2 linked regions of the Homo sapiens genome follow. The protein of the gene in region 2 interacts with the protein of the main gene of each other region in a pairwise test. Each region holds a gene or a part of one and is shown on either strand. Other genes may lie near its edges.

Region 1 (7,040 bases), on a different chromosome or scaffold from region 2:
TCAGTTGATTGTTACTCAGAAGAGTTCTTGAATAATGTAGTTTGAAGTTTGTTTATAATATGCTTAAATAATTAAAATAATGTTCATCCTGCGATTATAATGTTGTTTAGTTATCCACTTGTTATGGTAGGTGCTTTTGAATATGATAAAACAGCAAACTCAGGACTATCCTTAAAGTTCTACTCAGTGTCTGAATTTGGTTGCCAGATGAAATTACATAAGTTTATTTATATCTTTTCTGCTTCTGGGAAGTGCATTAAACTGTGAATCTAGATACCTAGATTTGAATTCCACTTTAACCTCAACTGAATCTGGGTAAGCTTTCTTTCCCTGGGCCCAGTTTCCTTGTCTCTCAAATTAAGGAGTTGGACTAAGTGATGTATATGTTTTTTTGCAATTCTAATTAAGTCTCAGGCTACTGATGATACAACGAAGTGATGTTTGTATATTCGGAACAAAAATTCAATGGCTGCACATTTTTGAAACTTTTTTCATTCTTTCCTAGTTTAATGATTAATAATATATTTATGGCACTAAAATGTAATTTGAGGCATATACTTTATTTTGGGTACTGGGGACAGATTTATGTTCTTAAGTCTATTGAACTACTATTAATGTTTGAGGCCAAAAATGTATATACATGAAAATATTATCTGGAAATATTCTGTGTCTGCTGACAGACATAGATCTGTTCAGATTTATATATTCAGTTATGGTGATTCCATACTCCTAGGAGCATTATAAATTTTTGTCCAATTAAGAGAGGTTTGGGGAAGATTTTCTAGCCTGAAATCTTTGCAAGCACTGAAATAATCATAACCATTTTGGTTGACTCATTATATGACGATGTCAAATATTGCCAAATATTCCAGCAGTTCGAATGGTTTTCAAAAAACTGTAGGCGCTATTTTCAAACTTTAGTAAAAAGTTTGACCTGCCATCTAGACTTGGCCTTTATTTCTGCAGATATAAATGAGATCTTAAAAATATTAAGAAAAGAGGGATTAATACTTACCACACATGCAAACTTGTGAGTTAACTACATTTAGATTATCAATAAGAACCATTTTTTAGTTAGATCGTGTTTCTTAAATATTTTTCATAAAGCTTGATAAGTTTTTTAATTAAGGAAAGTTATTAGTGTCATGTCTAAAACAGCTTCTGGTTAAAAAATAGTGTTCCTGTGACTCTTTAAAGTGACTTTTCTTTTGATTAACGTAATCACCTTTTTCTCCCAATAGACTTGGGATAATCTTATGTTTCTTAAATACAAAACAAACATGGGCAAAAAATTAAATTCAAGTTATCTTTGATCTTCAATTAAGACAATTTATGATATAGTGGAAAATTTCTACTTTGACAAGAAAAACACTTGGGAGTGATTATTGACACTTCTACCTACTGGGAAATAAAGGATGTGTCATTTTTTTTCCACCTCTCTGATACTCAGTTTCTTCATCTATATAACAGGAAAAGTGATACCTACCAGGCAGGGTTCTTTTAAGATGAAAAAACAAAAACAAAAACAAACAAACAAAAAACAACTTCTGCTTGTGATGCTTGTGATAACATAAGCCGTATTTTAAAAATTTATTTTATTTTATTTTTGAGACAGAGCCTTGCGCTGTTGCCCAGGTTAGAGTGAAGTGGTGCGATTTTGGCTCACTGCAACCTCTGCCTCCTGGGTTCAAGCAATTCTCCTGCCTCAGCCTCCCAAGTAGCTGGGATTACAGGTGCGTGCCACCACACCCGGCTAATTTTTGTATTTTTAGTAGAGACTGGATTTCACCATGTTGGCCAGGCTGGTCTCAAACTCCGAATTTTGTGATTGACCTGCCTCATCCTCCCAAAGTGCTAGGATTACAGGCATGAACCACTGTGCCCGGCCAATAATTTTTATGTGTATAACAAAAATATAAGCAGAAATTAAACAAACATAACATGATGATGCACCTCAATTTGAGAAAATAAGTAAAATAAACACTGCCTTACTTTAGATTACTGCTGAGTTACATTTGAACTCATAAAGCAAATTATGAAATAAATTACCTTATGAAAAAGGATTAGATTGAGGGTTTTAAAAATATCATGTTTAGTAAATGATCACTTGTCAGTCTTTAACCATGGGCTTGATTAGCCCTGGTCCTATTTATTTCAAGAGTAATTTCAGACCTATTCAGGCTTCATCTTAAACCCACATGTTCTTCACTCTCAGCAGGTGATTTCATCATCTGTTTTATTGGAGGAAATGGATATCTCTCTTCTGCTATTCCTCAACCTCCTACCACCTAAAAACTTCCATAGCCATCGTCATTGTCTTTCATTCCCAGAAGACCAAATGTTTCTTTTCTTCAGGGTTGACTTGCCATCCATATCCTTGACCCAAATGCTCTTCATCTCTGGACTCATTCTGTAGTTAAATCCTTTATTTGTATCTCCTACTCTTTCTCCCGATCGACTCTTTCTTTATAGCAGCTGTCAACATGATTCAATGTGAATAATTTGAAGAAATAGAATACTTCTTTCACTTGCCACAAATATTGGAAAATAATCTCTCTTGACATTTGTCCTTCCTTGTTTCCTTCAAACTTCTGATAATACTAGTATATACTAGCTGCCTCACTTTCTTAATTTACCTTTTTAGAATTATTCGGTTTGGCTTCTGTCTTCATCACTGTCCTGAAACTGATGACCCTAGTGACAGAATAATCTCATATTGCCAAATTGAGTAAATTTTTTCTGACCCCTTATCAAGTCTCTTGGCTGCACTTTCCACTGTTGACCTTCTTCTGATTTCTTTCCATCTTCCTTGTCTTCTGGGCACTATATTCTACTGGTTTTACTTCCTTTTTTGACCGTTTCTTGCCCTCATCATCCTTCATTTCCCTCCTTCCCACACCAACACACACAATGCTGTCACAGTAATTCATTTAAAGTCTCACCATGTCACACTTCTTAATAATTTCCATTGCCTGCAAGGCGTAGTCCATACCCCTTGACGTTCTTATAATATGCTTACCTCTCCAGAAGCATCTCTTCAGCCTTTCTGCTTAATTTCTCTCAGGTATACCAAACTGCTTATAATTCACTCTCTACACTCCCTTGACATTCCCATACCTATTCACAGAAAGCTAGATATTTTCCCCTCATTCCCATAACGAACGCCTCTAGATCACTATTCAAACTGTTATTTTAGAATGATCAGGTTGTGCCTGTCTCTCTCACTAGAGAAACAGCTCCTCTCTGTCTCCTCTTGAGGAGCAGAACCAAGTCTTTTTCATCACTATATTAGCAGCACTTTTCACAGTGCCTGGTATGTGATGGTGCCAGGTAGAGGCCAAACAGGCTTTTCTCCATCAGATTTGAGAACCAGCCCCCTGTTGGCCCCTCTGCTACCTCTTCCGCATGTGAATAACACTTGCTCTTCTCTCTGTCCTCTCCTATCTCTAAGGTGTTGCACATGCTAAGACCTCACTTTAGAATGCCCTTTCTAGCTTCTCTCCATGATTATAATTTATCTTCATCCAATAAAACTGAGTACTGCTATTCCTTCTTCTAGTAAGCCTTTCATAATGGCTTCTCATCTAATTCATTATAAATTAAGTGCACTTCTGGTTTTATTTTCAACCTATCCACCACTACTACATTGCAACATGCAATTCTTTTTGATCTTGGTTGTCTCCCCCTCTAAGCTTGAGGGCCATACTATGACTTCTGTCTTTGAATTTTTAATGCTTGCCTTCAGTCTTATATGTAGAAGGCCTCAATAAATGTTTCTTAACTGAATGATGCTGACCTCATATCTTCCTTTTTCTCCTACCATGTGTTTAGAAGATATCTCCAGAAACAATTTTTCAGTAATTCTGTCACTTACAATGATAATACTAATTCAGTCATATTTTATCTTTGCATAATTCAAAACCTCAGGAGGCCACTTTGAAAGTTTCCATTTGTTTTTAAGTCAATTTTGAAAAATTATTCATATGCAGGAAGTTGGAAAGATAGTACAGGGAAGTCCTTCTTTACTCTGTGAGGTATCTGAGAATCTGCCCATTTGTTTCTTTGTTGTTTGGATTGAGGCTTTGTGTGTGTCTGCTTTTTATTTATTTTTATTTATTTATTTATTTATTTTTTGAGATGGAGTCTGGCTCTGTCACCCAGGCTGGAGTGCAGTGGCACAATCTCAGCTCACTGCAAGCTCCGCCTCCCGGGTTCAGGCCATTCTCCTGTCTCAGCCTCCTGAGTAGCTGGGACTACAGGCACCCGCCACCACGCCTGGCTAATTTTTTGTATTTTTAGTAGAGACGGGGTTTCACCGTGTTAACCAGGATGGTCTCAATCTCCTGACCTCGTGATCCGCCCACCTCGGCCTCCCAAAGTGCTGGGATTACAGACGTGAGCCACCACGCCTGGCCGTGTCTGCCTTTAATACTTCTGAGTTGCTGGCTTTTCTAGCACTCAGTCTGGCACATACGCGGCACAAAGAAAATCTAAGAAAACCATTGAAATGTCATTCCCGAATCTTGTGGTACTGAGACAATTGGCCTCCTTTTTTCCACTTTCTAGAAAAGAAAGTCTTCTTATGTTTATCTGTAATGTCCCATCCGCATTCATTTATGTGTTTTAATTTATATTTTTATGAAATTTTCTTTTGATTGACTATTAGGCCTTGTACATTAATATTAATATTTCATTGACTAGTTATATAGGAATGAGCATGACCACGATAAATTCATCTAGATAATGGACACAGTAGTATTCTCTATATTTATCTGATTTTAAGGTTTTTTTATGGCCTGGTACCTGAGAATGGGAACATAACTGATCATTATTCTCAGTTTCTCTTTATGTATACAGTCTATAGTGAAGCTGTTTGTTCCCACAGCAGCTGTACAAGGGGAGGAAGTGAGGTTTGGAGGTAGTTTTTAGAAACCCCTGGAAATAACTGTGTAGTATCATCAGCTTTCCTTTTGCACTTATTTGAGCACTGAATTTGATCTTTCTTTTTGGTTTGGCTATATTATGAGAAATATATCTTCATTGGAATTATATTCTGGCATCAGTTTGATTTTTTAAAGCTATAAACCGTGTAATATTTAATATATTTCATAGATCAAAATTTGGTACTATTCCCCACAAACTGCTGAATTCCAATAAAATAAACTGAATTTGGAAATTTTTTTAGAGGTGGAATAACCACTAATAGATGATATTCTACATTAATGTTAGCAAATATCCATATTATATGGCTTCCTCATCTTCTCAAGTGCAGAGTTCTGTAGTGATTGCATCTTTTATTTGCCAAATACTTGTGAGGTCATGGCCAAGCATCCTCTTGCTCCATTGTTATTAACTTTTTTGGAGGAAAGAAGTCATTTTTAGCACATCCTCCATTTGACTCATAACAGTACTTCCAAAAAGATTTTGCAGTATAGAGAGATAATAAACAATCATAAAAGCATTAGGCTATTTACCTTATATTTTAGTTATAGTTTGGAGGATTAATTCCATCAGACTAGTACTCTACTGCATTTGACTACACAATCACATATGCCCTTGAATGTGTGTTGTTAAAAACTGCATATGGGCCGGGCACAGTGGCTCACGCTTGTAATCCCAGCACTTTGGGAGGCCGAGGCAGGTGGATCACAAGGTCAGGAGATCGAGGCCATCCTGCCTAACACGGTGAAACCCCATCTCTACTAAAAATACAAAAAAATTAGCCAGGCGTGGTGGCGGGCGCCTGTAGTCCCAGCTACTCGGGAGGCTGAGGCAGGAGAATGGTGTGAACCCGGGAGGTGGAGGTTGCAGTGAGCCGAGATCACGCCACTGCACTCCAGCTTGGGTGACAGAGCAAGACTCCGTCTCAAAAACAAAACAAAACAAAACAAAAACAACAGAAAAACCCAAAAAACTGCATATGATATGTGCTATTAATAAATGAAGTATCAAATGTTTAATTTATGGGGTTTATAATCTATAGGGGATTCAACTACATATATAGACAGATATTTATATATATACATATATGATATAAATAAGTATATGGAAGGTCTGATAGATTTTACAGAAATTTTAGAGACCACTGATATAGGAATTCAGAGAAAGTCATAACTTCTGTTGTTTATGGTAATGAGAGATTTATCATTATTACCATTATCATCATCTCAACATTTATTGAGTTTACTCTTTGCCAGACACTGTACTAGACGATGCATTACCACAAGTAATCTACCCACCAACCTTATTGTGTAGTTATTAGCATTAGTTTTACAAATTAAACAAATTAAGGCTTAGATAAATTAATTTATATCAGGTCTCACAGCAAAGAAATTGTAAAGTTGAAACCCAGGCCTTTTCACCTAGATGCCACGTGTAACCATTACACCACATTGTCTCCTGTGATAGAGACCCAATGTTAGGCTTTGAAAGAATGTCAGCTATTAGTATGCACATTTTATCTAGAAGATCAATGTTGTTGTTGCCATTAACTTCTAAAATATGTTTCTGAATACAAATATTGGATGAATTATTATATGATATCATAAAATATAAGTATAGCTTATAAAAGTCAAATAAATTTATGAATGGGGGAATTTACCTTAGTATAGAATTGAATTAAGGATCATCAAGACAGCCTACTACATTTTCTGAATGACTTACATTGACTGCTTCTTAGAGAGCTTAGTGATGTGGTGGCAGAGCAGAGGGAACATTTCAGACTTCTTTGGACCCAAAAAGTGATTGGATAATTTTGTGTGGTTTGCTGAGGCATTTTTTTCCCCACATTTTTTAGAGAACTGCTTACATTTGCTGAATTCTTCTAGAAGCAAAGAACAACTGTAGGCCCTCTCTTGGGTCTTGAGGCAGTCAGGGTTTTGTTTAACATTTAGAAGTGAGCAAATTTTACGTTTGATCAGAAACAGAAGACAGTATAGCTTGATTTAAATGTTATCTGTATGTTCTGAGGTATTAGAATTTAATAACTTTGAAACAGATTGGCTGGTGTTATTATACTGTTATCAGAAATGCCACGATCG
Region 2 (3,824 bases):
TCCTCCTAACACCCCATAGGCTCTCCACCAAGCTGTGTGCTAAAAGAGGTGACTGCCATCTGTGTGTGCCCTGGGCTCACCTTTTATTTCACTTTCCCTTGCAGGGACTTTCCATCTAACTGGAAAGATGAAGAACATTTCCCCTCTCCTACGCTAGGCAGGGCTGGGGTTTGGGAGGTCAGTGACAATCAGGGGCTAGAGCAGATACCTGGCTATTCTGGAGAAGGGGGGGACCTAGAAGGGACTCAGGAGGAATGCCTGGAGGCAGTAGGTGAGGCATACTTAGGCTGAATTTCCAGGGAAGCTTGCTGGAGTCATCTCAGGTCAGCAGGCCCAGCAGAGGGGTTAATGTCTGCCTTGCTCTGGGAATGAGGTGCTTTCCAGCCCTGGTAACAACCTCCACCTGTCTCCCTTTGAGCCCTTGCAGAATGAAGTGTTTGCATCGCGACATCAGGACCAGAACAGTGTGGCCTGCATTGAGGAGAAGTGCTATGTGCTGACTTTTGCCGAGTACTGCAGGTAGGTGGTTCCCTGCACCCTCTGGCTGGCCTCTTCCCTCAGGCTCCCCAGGCATATTTGGGGCTGCTTGGAATTCCCCGAGAGGATCTCATTCTGCTCTCTACCTGATCTTACTCACTGAGCCTAATCTCCCAGAACTTACTTCCCTATTGCTTGCCTCTACCATCTGATATTTTTTGGAAGAAAGAAGAAAAATTGTGTTGCCACACTGAGGTAGAATGGTTGGAGCAGAGTTGGGGGGTAACATTACTGCTCTTGGAAAAAATTTAGGCGAATTGGCAGGCAAATGGAGAGAGGCCCTGGCAAGTGTGGTTCTCCAGTGACAGAGAAGATAGCCTGGTGGTTGGCAGAGCAGACATCATCCCTGGGATGGGTGGAGACAGTACCACCCCTTGGGGAGCTAGGATAGCCTAGCTCTCTGGGTCGGGTAGGGTAGGGTAGGGAAGGAATTGGTCTTCCTGCAAAAGTGGCTGGAGTAAAGACAGTGAATGGTATCTCTCTACAGGTTCTGTGCCATGGCCAAGCGCCGAGGTGAAGGCCTCCCCAGCCGAAAGACAGCACTGGTTCCCCCCTCTGCAGACTATTCCACCCCACCCCACCGCACAGTGCCAGAGGACACGGACCCTGAGCTGGTGTTCCTTTGCCGCCATGTCTATGACTTCCGCCACGGGCGCATCCTTAAGAACCCCCAGTAGCCTCCTCATGCCCATGCTGGGGCTACCCATGGGCAAGTGGGGCTCGGGGTAGGGGGCACTGCTTGAAGCACAGCACTTGGTTAGGGGGCCACAGAGGCCTAAGTTTGCTGGCCTGTGGTTTTCTTGGGGGGGAGGGCAGGGGCCCCTGTGGGTTCTGGGCTCCAGGGGAGGGAGCTGGGGAGGCCAGGGTATAAGAAAAGCATCAGAACTCTCAGCTTGGCCCAAGGTACCTTCTGTGGTTCCCCTGGGTGGAGATTTCCGAAAAGTAGTCTTCTCTGAGGCTGGGCCAAGCCTGAGGGAAATGGGGCCCTAGGAGGGTGGGGGCGGGAAGGAGGGGCAAGGTCTTTCAGGAACCAGACCCAACAGGCCCTTCTGTAGCCTCCCCCTTGCCCTCAAAGGGGGAGTGGGGGCCAGCTTTACCTCACCCACTGTGACCCGCCGCTTCCCCTTCAGCCTGGGACCAGGCTTTCCTAGATCCCAGCACAGCTCTGAGCTTGTTCCTTTGAGGCATAGAGAGCCAGAGTCTGGCTTCCAGAGCATTGACTTCCTCTTCCTAGACTTGAGGCCTTTTCTCTGGCTTTCCTCCTTTGCCCTGCAGTAGCAACTGGTGCTGGGACAAGTTGACCCACCTCTCACAGTCATGGGTGTGGCCCACTTGTGGGAGTCTCCTGTCCACCTCCCAGAGACGGCCACCCAGCGGGTCTGGCTTCCCAGAAAGTTAACTGATGATTGTGGGGTTTGTCATATCTGGGAGGGAAGATGGGTGCTGGGAGAGGGTTGGGGGCAGGGGGCAAGGAAAATTGCTACCTGATTTGTTGAAGATTTTTCCTCTTGCCTTACACATGGAGGTTCCAGGAAACCTCTTGCAGAACTTCACACGTGATTCTTCAAGCCACACCCACCTGAAATCAAACCAAAGGAGTGCTGTGGCTCCCCTTGCCCTGCCACCCTTTCCCTAGTCTTTTGTAGATTGCACTAATTTACATCCTAGCAAGAATCAACACTGTATCAGTCCACGGACCTGCTGAGCTGCAGCCACTTGCTCTAGGAGCTAAGGACTTGCATTTTCAGTTTGTTCCTGTTGCCCAGAGGCCCTGTTCTCACCTCATGCTGCTCCCCAGAGTAGACTAACAGGCTCAGTCCCCTGTTGTCCTTGTGGAGACTAGGCCTTGGCCCTGGCCCTGAGACTCTGTGAGGGGGCTGGAGCAGCCTGGTTATTTCCTATCTGTACCAAAGAGGAGTATGGTGGGAGAGGGAGTGGAGTGCAGTGTGGCTTGGGCCTGGTGCTGGGAACCTGCTAGCTGAGCACTTCCACAAGGGCATACCCCTGGGGGCAGGGGCTGGGGCTGAGAACTGCAGCCCTGGGTCTTCCCTTAGGGAGGAAGGGCAGATGAACCCAGCAGGCTTAGGAGGTGGCACTGGGTGAGGACAGCTGGGCAGGGGCTGCAGAGGGAGGTGGAAATGAACCCTGAGGGCTCCCCCAACTTGCCATGCCCTGTCCCTTAGTAGATGAGTTGCTCCTGATTGGTCATTGGGTTTGGGTGAGGCCTGGAGGCTTCAGAGGTGAATTTATGCTTGGGAAGCCTGATCCCAAACCTGAAGGGAAGGGACTTGGATCTCCTTATATTGAATAAGCTGTTTGGAGGAAGGTGTCTGTCTGGGAGGATGGGGCAGTAAATGAGGTTGGCAGAGTGGCAGTGGGGGCTCTGCAGAGCCAGCCTTGGAGCCTGCTCATTCTGGGCCCTTGCTGCCAAGGAGCCCAGCCTCACCTAGCAGGAAAGGAGATGAAGGCCCTCCTCCCAGGAGGTAGGGTCTTGGCTGCCCCGAACTTAAATGCTTTTGAAATCTCTTAGATGTGGAAATATTTTTTCGAACCTGAAAATGCAGCTGGTAGAATTTCAATGGAAGCATAATCCATGTAAAATATATTTTAGTTGATATTTTGTAAAATGCACTTTTTGTGTGTGTTGATCCTGGTTTCCCAGATCTGTATTTCAGTGTTTACAAGGGAGGAAGGACCTTTCCTCACCTCCCTTTTGACAGAGATTAGAAGTACTTCTTTAAGAAAAAAATAAATTTGAGAAATTGTATTGATTTAGAAAAGGATCGTTTCCTGTGTGTCCTGTCATCTTTTGGTGTGTGGGTGTGGAGAGACCCACTATTCTTATTTCAGAGGTCCCTCTTAACCCCTGTGGCATGGATGCTCACCAAGGCCAATGAGCAAAGAGGGCAGGGAAGCAGAGGGAAAAGAGAGTGAGGGAAGGAGACAGAGGGACTGGGAACTTGGAGTTGACTTCTTGATTTCATGGTGGCCACAGCTGCCTGCTTAGGTCTGTGTGAAATACTTCAGTTGCCAGCCCTCACCTGACCAGTGACCTGGAAATTGGTCCCCAAGTAGGTACATGGCAAAGATACCTTCTTATCACTGGCCTCATGCAGTGGCTCCTGCCTGTAATCCCAGTGCTTTGGGAGGCAGAGGCAGGAGGGTTACTTGAGCCTAGGAGTTTAAGACCAGCCTAGGCAACATAGACCATGTCTCTCGAAAAATTTAAAAATTAGCCCGGCATGTCAGTGCATGCCTATAGTCTCAGTCAGGAGGCTAAGGTAGGA

Evidence for each region. Proteins that work in one complex are often made in the same cells at the same time.
Region 1: the proteins of BAHD1 (region 2) and KHDRBS2 interact in binary tests that used the Homo sapiens proteins (3 or more experiments, as listed by UniProt).

The regions. Positions count from the first base shown.
Region 1 is NC_000006.12:62,276,188-62,283,227, reverse strand, and holds part of KHDRBS2 (KH domain-containing, RNA-binding, signal transduction-associated protein 2), read left to right. Parts: intron 1-7,040. UniProt on the Homo sapiens protein: RNA-binding protein that plays a role in the regulation of alternative splicing and influences mRNA splice site selection and exon inclusion. Binds both poly(A) and poly(U) homopolymers. Phosphorylation by PTK6 inhibits its RNA-binding ability.
Region 2 is NC_000015.10:40,464,917-40,468,740, forward strand, and holds the end of BAHD1 (bromo adjacent homology domain-containing 1 protein), read left to right. Parts: intron 1-418; coding exon 419-519; intron 520-1,024; coding exon 1,025-1,214; 3' UTR 1,215-3,320; downstream 3,321-3,824.